Regions from separate parts of the Homo sapiens genome. Here region 2 is linked to region 1. The links come from fine-mapping of genetic effects on gene expression. Tissue or cell type: whole blood. Region 1 holds a variant in brackets; the other region holds the start of a gene. All regions are shown on one strand. Distances are between the middles of the regions.

The links. PIP is the estimated chance that this variant, and not a neighbour inherited with it, causes the effect.
Region 2: it holds the start of SLC2A9, and the variant in region 1 is fine-mapped to the expression of SLC2A9 in whole blood (INTERVAL, PIP above 0.99).

The regions. Positions count from the first base shown.
Region 1 is chr4:10,161,573-10,169,677 of GRCh38, forward strand. No RefSeq gene overlaps it. Among named protein-coding and RNA genes, the nearest start is that of WDR1, 49 kb to the left of the region's middle. The variant TA/T (reference allele first, on the strand shown) is at 3,106.
Region 2 is chr4:10,018,356-10,026,460 of GRCh38, forward strand. It overlaps SLC2A9 (solute carrier family 2 member 9), which reads right to left and starts at 3,142. Exons shown (of 12, transcript NM_020041.3): 1 at 2,925-3,142; 2 at 620-718. The coding sequence starts at 3,074. RefSeq lists a silencer at 451-610 and an enhancer at 2,624-3,123.

The DNA of each region.
Region 1 (8,105 bases):
CTTGTCAAAGTTGCTTGTTTCAAAGGTGACCAAACAACCACCTAATGTCTGAGCCCCTGCTGGCCTGTCCTTATCAGGCAATGTTTGCTGTAATGGCCTAGCTACTCCTGACCCATCAGGCATTGGGGGCACCAAGAAATGGCCCAGTGTAGCAGCAGTTCCTGCTCACCTTCCGGCAAAAGGAGCCAAACATGACCTGGCAGTGTAGTTGGGTCCTCTGGAAGTATCTGGAGCTACACTGTCTAGGTCTGCTTTGGACCTACGTTTGGGAAGTAAATGCCTTCTAAACTCACTATCCGGGGTCATTGTGGGTAATAAGGGAGAAGCATCAGAGAACAGTTGTTGGTTTAAAGTAGGTACTGCAACTGGAGTGCATTGTGCTTGTCATAGGTTGTTTCCTGGCAGCAAACTGTCTCTTGAAACTGCTGGTAAACTGAGGCAGGCTACGGAAGAGGCTCTTGCAAGCCTGACTGTTCGCTCCTTTGAACCAGGCTGAGACTACTTCCGTGGGTGGTTTGTGGTGGGGTAGTTGAGCGCTTGGGGAAGGACACTTTAAGCCAACACTAAGTTTGTATAAAATATTCAGATTAAAACCCATGAAGAGAGAAAGGAGGCAGGATGGGGCTGAAGTCAGACTGGGACGTAAGACTTGTCAGTCTTGCTGAGCCTGGTGGAGAGGGTCCAGAGCATACAAAAAAGGCATTCCTGTACTCCAGCCAGTGGACCCTCTCCCTTAAACCTTCTGTGCTGACCTCATTACAAAGTATCTCCTTGATCTATATTTAAATTTCTGTCTTTAAGTTTTTAGATTGGCACACAATGTGAATGGACGAATTCTGTAATGTGTTCTAGGTGGTTCATGGTATAGGCTTAAGACACCAATTGTGCAATGTGAAAAGTCACACGGTGACACACGTGTCCTCTTGGGAAGACCAGGTGGACCTTGGACTTTACACAACTAAGTTTATAACAACCAGTCTAACACCAATGTGTACTAGCAAACCCAGGGGACTTCTGCCTACTTCCATACTGGAGGAGCCAAGTGGGTTGTTTGACTTTCTACAGCGATCTGAGAATGAAATAATTGGGTATGTGAAGTCAATTTGTGTTCCCTAGAGGCAGACTTGTAGATGGAAATTGTTTAAGGTGTTAGGTTTACTGGTGAAGTGAGCTCTCACACCTGAAAGCAAACTGGAACAGGGTGGAATGCAAACTGTTTGTTTTGGAAAAGAAGCTTAAATGAGGCCATAATCTCTGGAGCCAGAGTAGCTTCCACAGCTAGCCTTGAATATTACCTGGCTGGGCTTTTGTGTACTCCTCACACTCCTAGCCATTGGAAGTGGCCACATCCAGGGATGTGGCATAACATTGGCTCAAGAAACTTTGCATTACGACGAGGGCTGTTGTCCGCAGAAGAATGTTGAAACTTCTAGCCCAGGTATCGGGTGTAGCATAGTACCCAGCTCCTTGGAAAGGGAAGGGTGTACTGCCTGTCTTCTGAAAAGGGCAGATCCTGAGACCTTTATCTGGGGACCTGTCCTTGAACTGCTGAGGTTTCCCATGCATCCTAGCAGGGCTTTGAGTTCCTCAATTCTAGGACCATGGATCCACCTACCAAGGGAAGCTCAGGTGATGAGCTGCAGGGTGGGAAAGGAGGCTCCTAGGTGACCCTGGACTTGGCTTCACCATCATTGTGAGATTGACAGCTGGTGGAGCTGGTTGTGTGTACTGAAGGTTGGGTGGGGGTGGTGTTCAAGGGGCTTCCCTGAGTGACTACTTGGGACCTTTATCATGTTTTAGATGCCCTCAATCTTGCTAGTGCTCCATTCTTCACTTAGGGGGGACTAGCTGTGAGCCCCCACCTGTATTGCCACAGCCTAAGTGACATCAGATGAACTGGGAAGTGGTGCTGTGGACTGGCCACACTCCAGGGCCTTGTACTTGCTTATTATAAACTTGGCTTCTTTCCTGGGGACTAGGCTACAGTAGCTGGTGGTCCCCCTCCCCCGCTCATTTTGGGGAAGATTCTCTCTACCTGATGTGTTTCAGAAGAATGCCTCAAACTCCTGTTCTTAAGCAGTTGCTAAAATCTACCTTCATTTAGTCTGAGTCCAGGTGATTTGGGAGATAGAACTGGAAAACATGAGCACGGCCTCACCCCCAAGTCAATGTTGGTGATCTGTGCATGCCCCCAAAGAGCTCAGTGGCCTTTTCTTGGGCCTCAAGCCATAAGAATAAGCCAAGTGGCCCATCTCTAAGCCAGCAGTCCCTCTAGGCATGTGGCATAACCTGTTGTCTATGCTCGGGTTGGGAACTTCTATGCTTGGTGTTCCCCAAGCCCTTTCGCATTACTTGCAGGATGTGTCTGTGCATCCTGTATTCTGGCTGGAAGGCGTGTGCAAGTGCAGCCAGCCAGGAATAAGGTAGAGGAGGAAATACTGTATAGGTGTCTCGCTGTGTTGCAAGAAACCGCTGGGCAGGGATGGGTTGTGAGGGTCAAAATCCCCCCTGTGGAAGACAGCTGAGTGGATGTCTCTTAGGAACACTGGAGGGCCATTGGGTTTCTCCACAGGGGAGATGATGTATGCCTGCTGCCAAATGACTACTTCCAATTCTCAGTGTGGAGAGTCAGGGTAGCTTGGGTCAGGCAAGGAGCATTCCCTGGGGAGCAGACTGCCTGCCTCCTAGAACACATCTCCTAAACTGAGCTCCTAGGGCTTATGATACTGCCTTTTTTCCTCTTGATTTGGGACATCCTTTTCCTATTATGGCCTGGGACTGGGACCGGGACCGGCACCACAGTCATAGTGTGTGGGATACAGCCCACTGTGGGTCTGAATGACCTCTGTGCCTTCCTGTAGGCTGCTATCGGGTCACATGTAGCCTGTCTGGGCAGAGGCTGAGAAGCTGCTCTGATGCTGCTTGCAGGTGAGTCCTTGGAGGACTGAGTTCCTGCTCCCTCTCCATGACCCATGTATGGCTGGCTATCATCCCAGGGGGCTTTCTACGTTCCAACATACCTTCAAGAATCTTGCTACATACTTCATTCAGTTTTACCTGTGGATATAACTTTATCTACTAAGACTTTAAACTACATATTAACCT[TA/T]AAAAAAAAAAAAAACTGTATGGCTTATAGTGGGCAGTTTACCTTGGCTGAACACATCTTTAAAACAATTAGGAAATGTGGAAAATTTGACGTTAATACCTAATTGGCACATATATTCAATTCACTGAAAGAAGTTTGCAATAAGGCCTCAAATTCAATGGCAAGAAACTTCTACACTTCATAGTTGGGCAAACACCTAAATTCATTGCCTGAATGACTTCCTGAACATCCTCTGGATATTAAACTCAATTCCTGGTTGGTGTCTTGGGAAAAGACAATTGGACAAGAACATGTCTGAGGAAGAAATGGGTATTATCACTGAAATTCTGACCAACAGCCAGTTGGGGGCAGGGGTGAGCAGCGAACCACAAATCCCCTGCTTCCCAAGCTTTCTTTTCACCTCGTCTTTGAGGATTCTTCTCCAAAACTAGTGTCTGTATCATGATGGTTACAAACCTTCCTACTCCACCTCTCCTCCCAGTTTGTCTTCAGTAAAAGCAAAAATTCCCTACTAATAAAGTTGGATACTCATTGACCCAGGACAAGTGAAAAAGATCCACGGCAAGGCTGTAAGTCTAGGAAGCACAGACTAAACTTAGCTGGATACATTATGGTACAGCTTTATGTCAAATCTAAATTTAAAAACGATCCAATTCAACTAAAATGGTGCAAAATTATGCTTGCACATTGTGAATATGGTTCCTTAAATTCATCAGGTAACTTAAAACTCAATTTGAGTGGGAAGCAACCTTAAAAGCTTTAAAAAGCAGAAAAAAACCCACAACTCAGTAGAAAATAAAGTGCCTTGTGTGTTTATCCTGGAGACAAACCATAAAGGCCTCAGGTTATTGAACTCAAATATCCTGAAAAATGTTTTTTGGGAAAGAATTTTAAGTAGGGGAGTTGATGCTGTTTTGTGCAATGGGGCTGAGCTCTGTGCCCACTGAGTTGGCATAGTGGTGATGTTCTTAGTCACGTTCATCAGGGCTCTCTGAAATTCATAACATGTAAACATGCTAGTCTGTAAGTTGTCCTCGTGCTTAGATGAAACTGTAAATGCTCTGGAAGGCAAAGGGAGCTTTTCTCATTGGTCGACCATTGTTCCAGTACTGCATTAAACTGCTCTGGTCAGAAGTTGTCAGTGATGCTATAAATGAGCTTTCCATTCCAGTGCAAGGGAATTGACCAGTGAGGTAGGTTTTGTGTAACTTTGCACTTGCAGGACACATTTAGTCACCAGTCACTCCATTCCTTGTTAGGATCAGAAATACAAGCGGGAGAAGCTGAAACCAGTTAACAGCTGGTAGATCTAGAAGCATTAGGCCAAGTGGGATACATCTTTCCAATATACGGAATATCTTGCATAGGTCAAAAAGGCATAATTGAGATGCTTGTTAGCAACTTTTCAAGTTTGGTGTTGAGCATTTTGAGTTTGCTTTTTAACTAAAGTTTTCAACGGCATCATGCACAGTATCAACTTCTCTAGCCAACTGATCTCAATTCCTTGATATTTAGCATGTCACAGCTTTCATGACTAGGGATTGTTTTTGTCTGCTTTTCATCTCATTCATGAAAGCCTGAGTGTCAAATACTCAAACTGCTTCCACCCTAGTTCCTTCTTCAGATATAGCCAATGACAAAGCAGGAGCAATGACGTTGAAAGAATCCTCCAAGAGCCTTGGATTCCTGTAGTCTTGGTCCCTTCATGGAGTTGCTTTGGGATCCAGGGACATCTTGAATGTTAGTCTGAGTGCCGCTGCAGGTGTTGTCTTTGTCTATCAATTTCTGGGAAGGAGAATTAAAGGACTCTGTCTTAACACTTACACTTGAAGTCTACAACTAGAGTGAAGCAGTTCTTATGGCAGTATTCTGAGAAATTCAGTACAGGAGCAAACGGCTATTTCTTCTCTCAACTCCTTTACAATGGTCAGCTGAGGAAGTTCCCAGCTGAGAGCTGCTGAAGTCATGTCTAGAAGAGTAGACACCTGGGAGTATGACTTGTTCTACTTATTAACTAGAATCAATGGTAACTTGTGAAATGTTTCCATCTTCAAACCGAGGCTCTGTATCTCAACCTATGAAGCAGCAGGCACTGCTGTGGGGGGCGGGGGTGTGTCTTAAGTTGACATCTGCCACCCACTGGTGTGTGCTTGGCCTGTTAAGGTATGAAGACCGGACTTCAGAGGTCAGCACCATGGAATCGACTGAGGCTTTGTCGTTAAGTGCCATAGATATGCCCTTCTTCCTGATGTTCTATACCTACGGGAGGCTTTTCATCAAGACCTCACTTAACACACTAGAGGCACAACGTAGCACCTTCAAGGTATGGGGGTGAAATTGGAGGCAGGAAGCAAAAATAAACTGTTGCCTCCTGGCTTTCCTGGAACTCAGGTGTGTCCAACATGAAACGGGAGATGAGTGAACCCAGACACCTCTGTCTGCAGGGATACTTCTCCCGTGGATCCCACACCACCCAACTCCATAGGCCTCTTGTGGCGATTGCACTGCCTCTGGTGTCCTGGCCCTGGTTGTGATTCTATCCCCACAAGGCCAGCAAAGTCTGAGGTGAAAGTTGTCACCACGATTGTATAAATCCTCTTGAGAGAAGCAGGCTCTTCCAGGGCAGGCAGTTCCTCTGAGGAAGATGAATCTGCTCTGAATTTCACAGGGATGTTTCCCTTGTCCACTTCAGACAACCTTTGTGATGTCTGGATTCCAGTCTCAGCTCTGCTGGGAGCATCCTTTTGATGTGGGTAGGCAAAGGTGCAGATATGTATGCCTCTAACTTTTGGCCTTTGCTCAGCTCTAATAGTTGGCACTGGGCCTACAGAATGTCCTGGTGAAGCAGGTTAACCGGTGGTGGTTTTTGATGGTAATCGGTGAGCTTGGTATACTGAGGCTTTGGTCAGTTACTGCGCTCTGCCCTCTTTGGGTGGAGTGTTGTCACCTATAACAGACCTTCTGTTTGGTCTCCTTTGCTGGCGTTCCTGGTAACATGGTTATGCCTGGGGAATTAGAAGCCTGCTGTCCCTCTTCAGTTCCTACTGATGGTTGTTCAAACATGGGATTATCTTCCTCGATCTCTCTGAAGGTTCCACTCCTTGCCTCCTGACTTCTCCATACTCAAGTGGAGGTTGATCCAAGAGTCTTTTCTACCTCCCAATGCTGGTTGGCATTTCTGTAAGCGTCCTGAAACCCCCAGGTATTGTCCACCACCTAGATGTTAAGGCATAAGGTAGAAACTCTAAGGCAAAACTCAGATGTATCCCTGACATCTCTGCTGGTGCAGGAAGGCCTGCCATGGGGAAGATGGCAGTGTAAGGCAACTGGCCTGGAGTCCAGTCAGCAGAGACCTGCCACTGGCTGTGGGTTGATCAAGTGTCCTTCAGTGTCCCAGACTGCCAAAGACCAGCTTGGTTGTGGAGACCCTAACCCAGTGGCACTAGAGGAATTAAAGACAGAGACACAGGAATGAAGTGGGAATCAAAGAGCTGACAGCCTTCAGAGCTTGAGAGTCAGTCTGACCCATACATTTGACAAAGTCAGTGATAAGCATAGTTTCTACATATTACAGACTAGCTAAAAGCATTCCTTATGGGAAAGAAAGCATTCTTAGTGAGGAGCAGAGAAACAGGCCCTGGCTGATTATCTGCAGCAAAAGCATGTTAAGGCACCGGCAGCTCCTGCTATTGTTTGTGGTTTGAGTAGTTTTCCTGCTCTGGGTGGGCCAGGTTTTCCTAGCGCTGCTCCAGTAAACCAACCTTTAGCAGTGTGTGTGATAGCCATCATGAGCATGTCACATTGCTGCAGAAATCCTGTTTATGGCCAGTTTAACGCCTGTTTATGACAGGGTTAGGGCTTGCTACCAGCAAGGCCCCCTTTTCCTTTTTGTAAAGCGATAAAGGCATAGGCAGCTTTGTCATGGTGGGCTACTTCTCGCAAGATTCGGGATCCGCATCTGTAGGCTACAGACTACACAGATTAAAAGCACAGTCATAGAAATCAGAGTCTCCAAGTGTCTTGATCCATTTTAATGGGTTAATAGCTGCTAATCCATCTGCAGCTCCTTCAAGCACTGGCATTAGCGTCAGATGTTCCTGAGAGGCTTCTGAAACACTTGTTCCTTCAGTTTTGCAATATCTGAAGAAAATATCCAGTATGACCTTTTAAATGTTAACTTTTTCCCACTCATGCTGTTTCATTTCACAGATGAGGAGTAACGTAAAAAGAAGTACTCCAGTCACATTGTAACTGTACTCTATATTCTAACTACTCAATCTCCTAGCCACATTAGTTTGTTGGAGATCTCATTGATGTGATTAGCTAGTTCGTGGTCTATTTGGGAACTCCACAGCAAAGTAGAATTTTCTACCAATTATTTACATAGTCTGCTGTTTGTACTGTGTAATGCAAAGCAACTCCAGCTACTGTGGCAGCAGCTGTGACAACCTTTTGAAGAATTTTAGTAACAATATGCACAGGAGAGGCTTCCCAAGGACAGGAAAGCTTTACGGGTATCCATACTCCTCCTCGGGCTCTTACCACTAAAATAGAATGATCAGTATTATACAAGGAAGAATTAACACAAGAAAACTACATTCCTGACAAGTTACATGATTAGGGAGATCAAGTTTTAAAAAACCCACTCTACCAACAGGAAAGGCAGATGGACACAACTCTGTATCCGGACTGAATCGTTAGGCCAATTCTACTATGTAATTAGGATTATATTGGGCTGGCTTAATAAATTTCCCTTCCCAAATCTTTTTTTCAGTGCCATTAAGATTTTCCATAATTCCTTACGTTTAGCTCCTACAGCACGCCATATCATTTGGGGTTGCGGTACCACTATACCATATGCCCAAATAATAGGAACCCTTGCTGTACTTAGTGTCCACCATCAGATTATTTTTTGTTTAGATGCAGAGTGACCACTACCTGCAGATTGAGAGGTGGGGCCTCATAGATGCCCCTTTAGGGGACCAATCAATAACTCCAT
Region 2 (8,105 bases), 140 kb before region 1:
CCAATATGGCGGAACACCACCTCTACAAATACAAAAATTAGTCGGGTGTGGTGGTGCATGCCTGTAGCCCCAGTTACTCGGGAGGCTGAGGCAGAAGAATCACTTGAACGTGGGAGGCGGCGGTTGCAGTGAGCCGAGATCGCACCACTGCACTCCAGCCTGGTGACAGAGTGAGACTCCATCTCAAAGATGATAGATAGATAGATAGATAGATAGATAGATAGATAGATAGATAACAACAACAACAAAACAAATCAAGAAAATGTCCAAGTTTCCATGCATAAGGCCCCTCCTGGTTCTTTCCCCGGCATTAGGGGCCAGAGGATCGCCCCCCACCCCACCCCGGGACTTCCGAAGCCCCCTCTCATCTAGTCTCCCAACGTTCTCCCAGGACACCCGCCCTCCAGCCGCAAGAACTGTCATCCCCCGCCCCTGTCCCCGTGTCATCATTGTCTGTCTCTGTGCCTCCCCTCTCCCCCGAGTGGGGGCTAATCTCTGTCCCCGCGGTGTCCCGCGCCGCGAGCGCAACAGGAGGGGGCGCTGGAGCCCAGGGCCCTTGCGCACCCGAAGGTTTCCGCAGGGCCGCAGCGCCCTCTGCCGGGCCTTGGCGCGCACTCACCGGGGTGGGGGCATTCACCACCGACAGGTTGTAGCCGTAGAGGAAGGAGGAGCCGAAGGCGCCCGCGAGGGAGGCCACGAGGAGCGAGCAGGACCAGTCCTGAGGGGAGAGGAAACCACGTCAGAGCCGGCACCGGGCGCGCAGCCAGGGCCGAGGGAAGACCTGGAACGTTCCCTCAGCTGGGGGAGGCCTTCCGGAGGAGAAGTCTTTGTCCTTGGCTGGGGTAGAGACAGAGAGAAGAGACGCAAGTTGGGGACCTGCAAGTAGGGTTCCAGTCCAGGTCCGCGTGCGCAGGCCGGGCGCCCTCAGGTTTAGCGGCCACGCCCTTGCGTTCCTTCCGGGTTGCGTGAGGATTCCTGAAACGCAGTTTTCAGCAGCTGCTCTGGGCAGCTCCACACGATCCTTTCAGCGAAGTTGGCGAGTGTCCGACCCAGACAGAAAAAAGCAAAGCCAGACTCCAAGCGCTATCAGCCAGGCGTGATTCTAAGCACTTTTCTGCGCATTGTCTCTGAGTCCTTAGATCAGTGCTGTTATGTCCTGTATTACAGGTGAGGAAAGAGGGGCAGGGAGCGTGGCTGGTGCTGTCTAGGATGGGGACTGAAGTCCAGGTGGCCTGGCTGCAGTGCCCCTCTAGTCACCACTGCACTGTCCCCTGCTGACCCGTCACCTGAGTGCCGTTGTCCAAGGGCCTGAGACTGCCGACAGCCAGACAGATGTGCACACACGCTTACATGCACATACTGTTCCAGTCTGAGGCGTCAAACTACAGGGGCTGGTCCAAGCCTCAGGACAAGGACCTGCAGACGTAGAGATGCAAGGTTTGGCACAGAGAACAGGGCGCCTGCCTTGGTGTTGTCCTGCCCTGCAGCCCCATCTAAGGACAGCCACCACCAGTACAGGGCCATAGGGCAGAAACACCTGGATCCCTGGCAAAGGCTGACAAGCTGGCATGAGCCAGGGCAGGAGGGATGGCTGTCCTCAGCTGGTCAGGGAATACAGGCCAAGTGGACAGGGGCCAGGTGCTCCGGAAGGCACCTTCTTTGCCATCATTTGACATATTTGTGAGTGTGTGTGTGTGTGTGTGTGTGTGTGTGTGTGTTGTAGGCGCCAGGCCCTGACAAAGCTGTGGGGGTGCAACAGTGAAGAAGACATATGGATCCATGGTTCAGGGACCCATATCAGTCAAATCCCGTCTGGAAGGGAATGCGGGTCTCTTGATGGCCACTTACCTGCTCTGCCAGTCTCGTTTGTCTCCTCTAGTGCCACCAGCCACGAGATAGAGCTTTGGGGCTTTGAGCCAAGTGATATCAGCTTTACCTCCAGGGCCAGTCCCCTCAGCTGTAGGAGTCTGAGCAAGTGACTTGACTTTTCTGGGGCTCAGCTTGCCCACCTGTGAAATGGGATCTTAATAGCAGCACTGGCCACATATGTTGTTGAGGAGCCTGCTGCAGAGGAGGTGCTCCGTAGAGGCTGCTGATCACATGCGGGGGCAAGAGGGAACATTTATAAGCCTTGGGGATGGGTGCTGCCAATTGAAATGTAGTACCAGAATATTTTTCTGCAGTGAGAGGAGCTTGAGCTGAATGGGGATCCCTGATGGAACAGAATCACATTTCAGATGAAACGCCTGTTCTCTATCACTCTTTCTCTTTAAACCTATCCTCTGAGTCTCGGCACAGATACCACTTCTTCTGAGCCCCTGGGCTGTGCTGGGCATCGTTTCTGTGCTCTGTGCCTTCTTTGCTCCCAGCCCCGATGACCTTAGAGGACACAAACTCCTCCCTGGTCTGCACCCCATCAGATTGGGAGCACCTGGTGTGAAGTGCCCCTGCCAGAGGCTGGTGAAGGGCAGGTGGGGGCCATCTTCTCCTGCCTCAGCTGTGCTCCCCGGAGCCCCCTGCCTGTGTGGCCCGCCTGTGCCCTCCACCCGCTCCCCACTCACTGCACGGGCAGAGGGTGCCCACTGACCGACGGTGCTGCTGCCCGTGCCATGCCCTGGGGAGGGTGAGAAGAGGGACACCACCATGCAAGTGCGGGGCAGGGCAGCCTGCCACCATAGCCTCATTCCATGTACACACCCAGTCTACCAGAGACGCTGTTGGCCCAGTCAGCTGGGGCTTGGAGAGAGCATGCCAAAGTCACACAGATGGAGAAGTGCAACTCAAACTGAGGCCTCCCTGCCTCAAAGCCCCAGATCCCCCAGCTACACGCTGCCAGGCTGGGGCTGAGCACTGTCACACGGCTGCCACCCAGGCCTGCCTTCCCCACAGCCCGCCAGCCATGCAGAAAAGCTGTCCGTAGTTACCTTTCTTCTCCTTCCACCTGGCACCCCACTCCTCAGGTGGTCACACTCCAGCAGTGCCCTCCCTGGCCCTGGAGGCCCGGCGTGGCTGGTGTCATCTGTGAGGGGAACTAGGCCCAGTTCCTTGGAATTCCTATTTTGTTTCCTTGCCATGGGTCTCAGTGACCCAGCTGATGGCTCAGTCCAGGGACCCCAGACTCTGCCAAGGCATTTCCGTGAGTGAGGAGGCAGAGTCCACTGGAAGGAGGGCGGGAGTTCCTGACAGGAAGTGTGGCAATTTGATCATGCCTGAACAGGCAACGGGGCAACATTTTTTTCTCTGCTCCTAAGTTATTACAGCAATGAAACAGTCCAAAAAGGGAAATCTGTCCTCTCCAGGATTGCCACCCAGGGGGTGGAATTTTTTTTTTTTTTCTTAGCATCTTTTTATTTTTCTCTGGTAACAAAGCCTGGAGCAGGGTGACTGCCATTAACCTAGGATACCTCCCTAATGCTTGGAACAGAATGGAGAGGTGGCTGACTTTGACTCAGAAGCCTGCATACAGCTCTGCCCCTGACTCTTCCACTTTTTTTTTTTTTTTTTGACCGAATCTTGCTCTGTTGCCCGGGCTGGAGTGCACTGATGCAATCTCTGCTCACTGCAACCTCCGCACCTGGGTTCAAGCAATTCTCCTGCCTCAGCCTCCCAAGTAGCTGGAACTATAGGCGTGTGCCACCACGCCTGGCTGATTTTTGTATTTTTAGTAGAGACTGTGTTTCACCATGTTGGCCAGGCTGGTCTTGACCTCCTTACCTCAGGTGATCTGCCCACCTCAGCCTCCCAAAGTGCTGGAATTAGAGGCGTAAGCCACCATGTCTGGCCAACTCCTCCACTTTTTAACTGTGTGTCCTCAGGCAAGTCACTTTATTCTCTGAGCTGCAACTTCTACCACTGCAAAATGGAATATTGACCCCACTCTGACTGTCCTGCAGACTTATTCTGAAGCTCAAATAGAAAACAGCCAGCCCCAAGTGGCGTGCTGTAAATGAGTGTGGGCTCTCCTGTAGCCTAGAACAAAGGCGAGGGCTGTGGGTTTGGAAGAAAAAGAATTTGCCTCTTAGTCGTTACTCTGTCCTGCTCATTCAGCACTGGCTGAGGGGACATGTCCTGTATTCCAGCCCCAGGCTGGCTCAAGGACAGTACTGAGAAGGCAAGGGCCTCATGCACACCAGGAGGTTGTGGGAATCAGTTCATCACATGGCCATGTTGCCTCAGACGCCAGAGAAGCACCTTCAATTTTGGCTAGAACAGTTTGCTCCCAGAAGCAGAGAGCAGTGCAGAGTCTGGGCCAGAGCCAGGGACAGGCTTGGTGAATGCAGAACGTCCAGGAGGCAAGGTAGGGCTCAGTCCACAAAAGAGAGATCGAAAAGTTAGCAAAGTACGTTTAGTAAAAAGCACACAATAAAATAAAAGGTGTGGAGTACGGCAGACATTCCAGGAACCTGGAATGTGAAACGCACGTGGAAACGTCCGGCCCTGACATGCACGGTGGTGGGAATGTGGCTGCTCAAAGCAAGTGGGGAATCAAGACTTCCAAAGAGGAAAACCACCCTCAGGAGTTAGGTTGGGGATGTATTGAGCACGCCAGTCATTCAGTGCAATCGTCCTTCTGTGTGTTAATCAGTCAGGCATGCCCCGGGAGAAGTGGCTGTTTCTTGAACTGGATTTCAGCTATGCAGCCTGGTTTCCTCATTGAGTGGTGGGCCTAGAGCAGCATTCTGATGTGCAAATCCTTAATTATAACATGACCTAAAAAGGCGGAGGATTCCCCAGGACAGTGTGGAGGAGGCACCACATCAATCTCAGCTGGATCTTGGAGACCCCGCTGGAAGAGGCGGCTTCTGAGCGGACAGAGAAGGATACGGGGTGAGAGGACAAGGAGCCAAGGCCTGCAGGCACAGATGCCTGCAGTGTGTGGGAGGAAGTGAAATTGTCAGTGAAGCATGGTTGGGGCCTGAAGTACAGGAGATGGGCAGAGGAGGGGCAGGGACAGCTGCATCCCTGTGCATGGAGGGCCCCTCTGCCCCTATGCTGTCCTGATAGGGACTGCATTTTCATCATCTCATTTACCCCTCCTCATCCCATTGCTGTGACTCCCCTCTCTATACCCTCCCTGTTTCCTCATCTGTAACAGTGGGGACCTCACCAGATTTTGCTAAAGCTCAAATTGGATCAGGTGTCCCCTCATCCCGTTAAAAATTGCTTCGTAGTCCTCTGTTGGGTTTGAAAACTCAAAAGGAACCAGAAATTAGGCAGTGGACATGAATGTGCAGCTACAGCTGGACAGAAAGTAAAAGAGCGGAGATGGGTCCCTCCCGGATCCAGATGGTAGCTAACCAGGGTTCCTGGTAGCCACAGCACTTGCCTCACCTTCAGCTCCTACTACATGTGCACAGCTCATGTTACATGTGCACAGGGCTTTCCCAAGTGTGTTCACCTTCATGATATCGTTTAGTCCTCAGAGGAACTATCAGACCTACATTTCGGGGCAACTGAAGTTCAGGGGGAGCATGGAGGAGCCTGCCTCCAAAGCGAGGGCTGGTTCCCCATTCCACAGGGCCATCGGCCCTGCACTGCAGGCAACTGCTAAGGAAGCGACTCCTATCACAGATGAAGTCATAAGACAAACATCCCCAGATGTTCTGGGCTGGGGCACGTTCTGCCTGCTCTGACACTCACTGGTTCCTTCATTCAGTCATTACTTGCCTGTCTTTATGAAGCTCCTACTCATTCAGGTTCTCCTGACCTTGCTCAGGCCCTCACTTCTGACTGCCCTGAACTGTGCTCACCCTTCAGCACTTAACTCTCTCGCCACCTCCTCCCAGCAGCCTCCCCAACCTCTCGCTGCCTCTGTGCTCCATGTGTGCCTTCCCCTCTGCACGTGTGCTGCTGCTCACGTGTGCCTTCCCCTCTGCACGGGAGCTCACTGTGGGCAGGGATGGTGTGCGTCTCAATGGGCTGATTGTGTCCCCTCAGATTCACATGTTGAAGTCCTCACCCCAAGTACCTGACAATGTGACTGTATTTGGAGATAGGGTTTTTGAAGAGGTAATTAAGGTTAAATGAAGTCATATGCATGGGGCTGTATTCCAGTATGCCTGGTGTCCTTATAGGAAGAGGAAATGAGGACACAGACACACACAGAGGGATGACCACGTGAGGACGCAGGGAGAAGGCAGCCACTTCTGCCAAGAAGGGAGGCTTCAGAAGGAACTAACCTGCTGACACTCTGAGCTTGGACTTCTGGTTTCTAAGACTGTGAGACAATACATTTCTGTTGTTTAAGCTGCCCAGTCTATGGGACTTTGTCTTGGCAGCCCCAGCAAACCCACAGTGTCCTAAGCCTCTTTGTATTCCTAGACTTCCTTCAGCCTGGCTCAGGGACAGGGTCCAGTAGATAGGCATCACTTCTGGAACTGACCTTAAACTGTCCTCCGGATGATTTCCTAAGGCTAAAAAGTTGTCTTGGACAAGGTGGAAGTTTTCTAGCAGGGAAGAGTTGGAAAAGAAGGGGGGTTTTCTATTGAGTATCATTTAAGCAGAATGTTTGAAATGACTACATCCCTTCCTTCATTACACCAAATACTTAGACAGTAGATCCTTGACTCACCTAATGTAAGCACCAAGAAAAGATATAGCGTCCACTTAGAGGGAACTGCTGTCTATTTGACATTATTCTTGCGTGGGGTCTTGGGTAACCTCAAACAGGTGACTGCACCCTTATCCTCCATTTCACACCTCTGTGGGGACAATGATGTTCAGCTTGCCAATTTCACACCTTCTTGACAACTTGGTAAATGGACTTGTGTTGATCTCTGTCCTACCAAATACAGGTTTATTATAAATACAAATAAATTTTCCCTGGAGTCACAGTAGCTTCCACACCCATCACAGGAGGTGAGGCACAGATAATCCAAGGTTTAAGAAGGGCTCAAACCTGTACTAGCCACATAGCCTTGGACAAGTGGCTTCATCCCTTTCTGAGCCTCAGTTCATCGCCTGTAAAATAGGGCCAGTGATGCCTTCAGCATGGTTTGATCCAGAGAGAACCATGTAAAGAGTCTCTCTTTAAATGAGAGCCCTATGTAAAGGTCCAGCACAGAGTAGGCACTCTCTGGCTGTTGGTTCTTGAATCAGGTTTAAAAAGAGCATCTGATGAGTCCCAAGAAGAAAGAAAGTCATTCTATTAATAGGAGCTGAGGACTTCCTGGAGGAAGGGGCAGGTCGACTAAGCTTTGTGATGGATTAAGGGGTGGGTTTTAGTGTATCTTTAACGATGATGACATAATCATTGTCAACATCAATGTCCCCTTGTTGAGAAATGACCTTTGTAATGGAGACTTTTGCCCCAAGCCCAGAAAGTCACCAGCAGATCAGGACTGTCAATTTCACTCTTCTGAGCCTCATCCCAGACACTCTACAATCCCCATGGCTCCTTCCCATAGAACTTGGCTTTCAGCTGCTGCTCACTCTTTTCTCTGCCCAGCTTCACCTTAACAGCCTCCCACTGACCCAGGGGAAAGGGGTACTACCCCCTGGGTGACCGGAATAATCATGTAAGGGAGACAGAAAAAAAAAAGGACTGACCAATTTCTTTTTCGCTGAATCACTTTCTTCATCTTCTCCTCGGTCCTTTTTACTGAGCTTCATGGTTCACTTTTCAGGTTTTGAACTTTTGTTGTTATTGTTTCTGAGAAAGAGAAAAAGAAAGAAGCCATTAGACAGCTGCTTTCTCAGATGTGCAAGTCAGGGGAGGTGGCCTGGAGCAGTCTTCGAAAGGTTTGCTGTGAGGAGCTCTGGCTGGGATGCCAGGATAGGACACAGCAGCATCCTCGCTTGGGCATCTCCCTGCTCTCCTCTGTCCTCAGTTTCTCTATTTTTGAGTGCAGGGCTTCCCACACTTGCCTTGTTGATTATTAAATACAGGCAATGATCCCATTCCTCTTCTGCATCATCAATTTATCTCTCTGTGTTGGATCTCCCCGGGCTATGTACAAAAATGTCCTAGTGTCACCCATATTTTTTTTTTAAAAATCAACTAAAAGTTTTTGGCAAGGATGTGGAGAAATTGGAACCCTTGTATAGGATTGTCTTTGCTAGTGGAAATGTGAAATGGTTTAGCTACTGTGGGAAAAAGTTTGCTT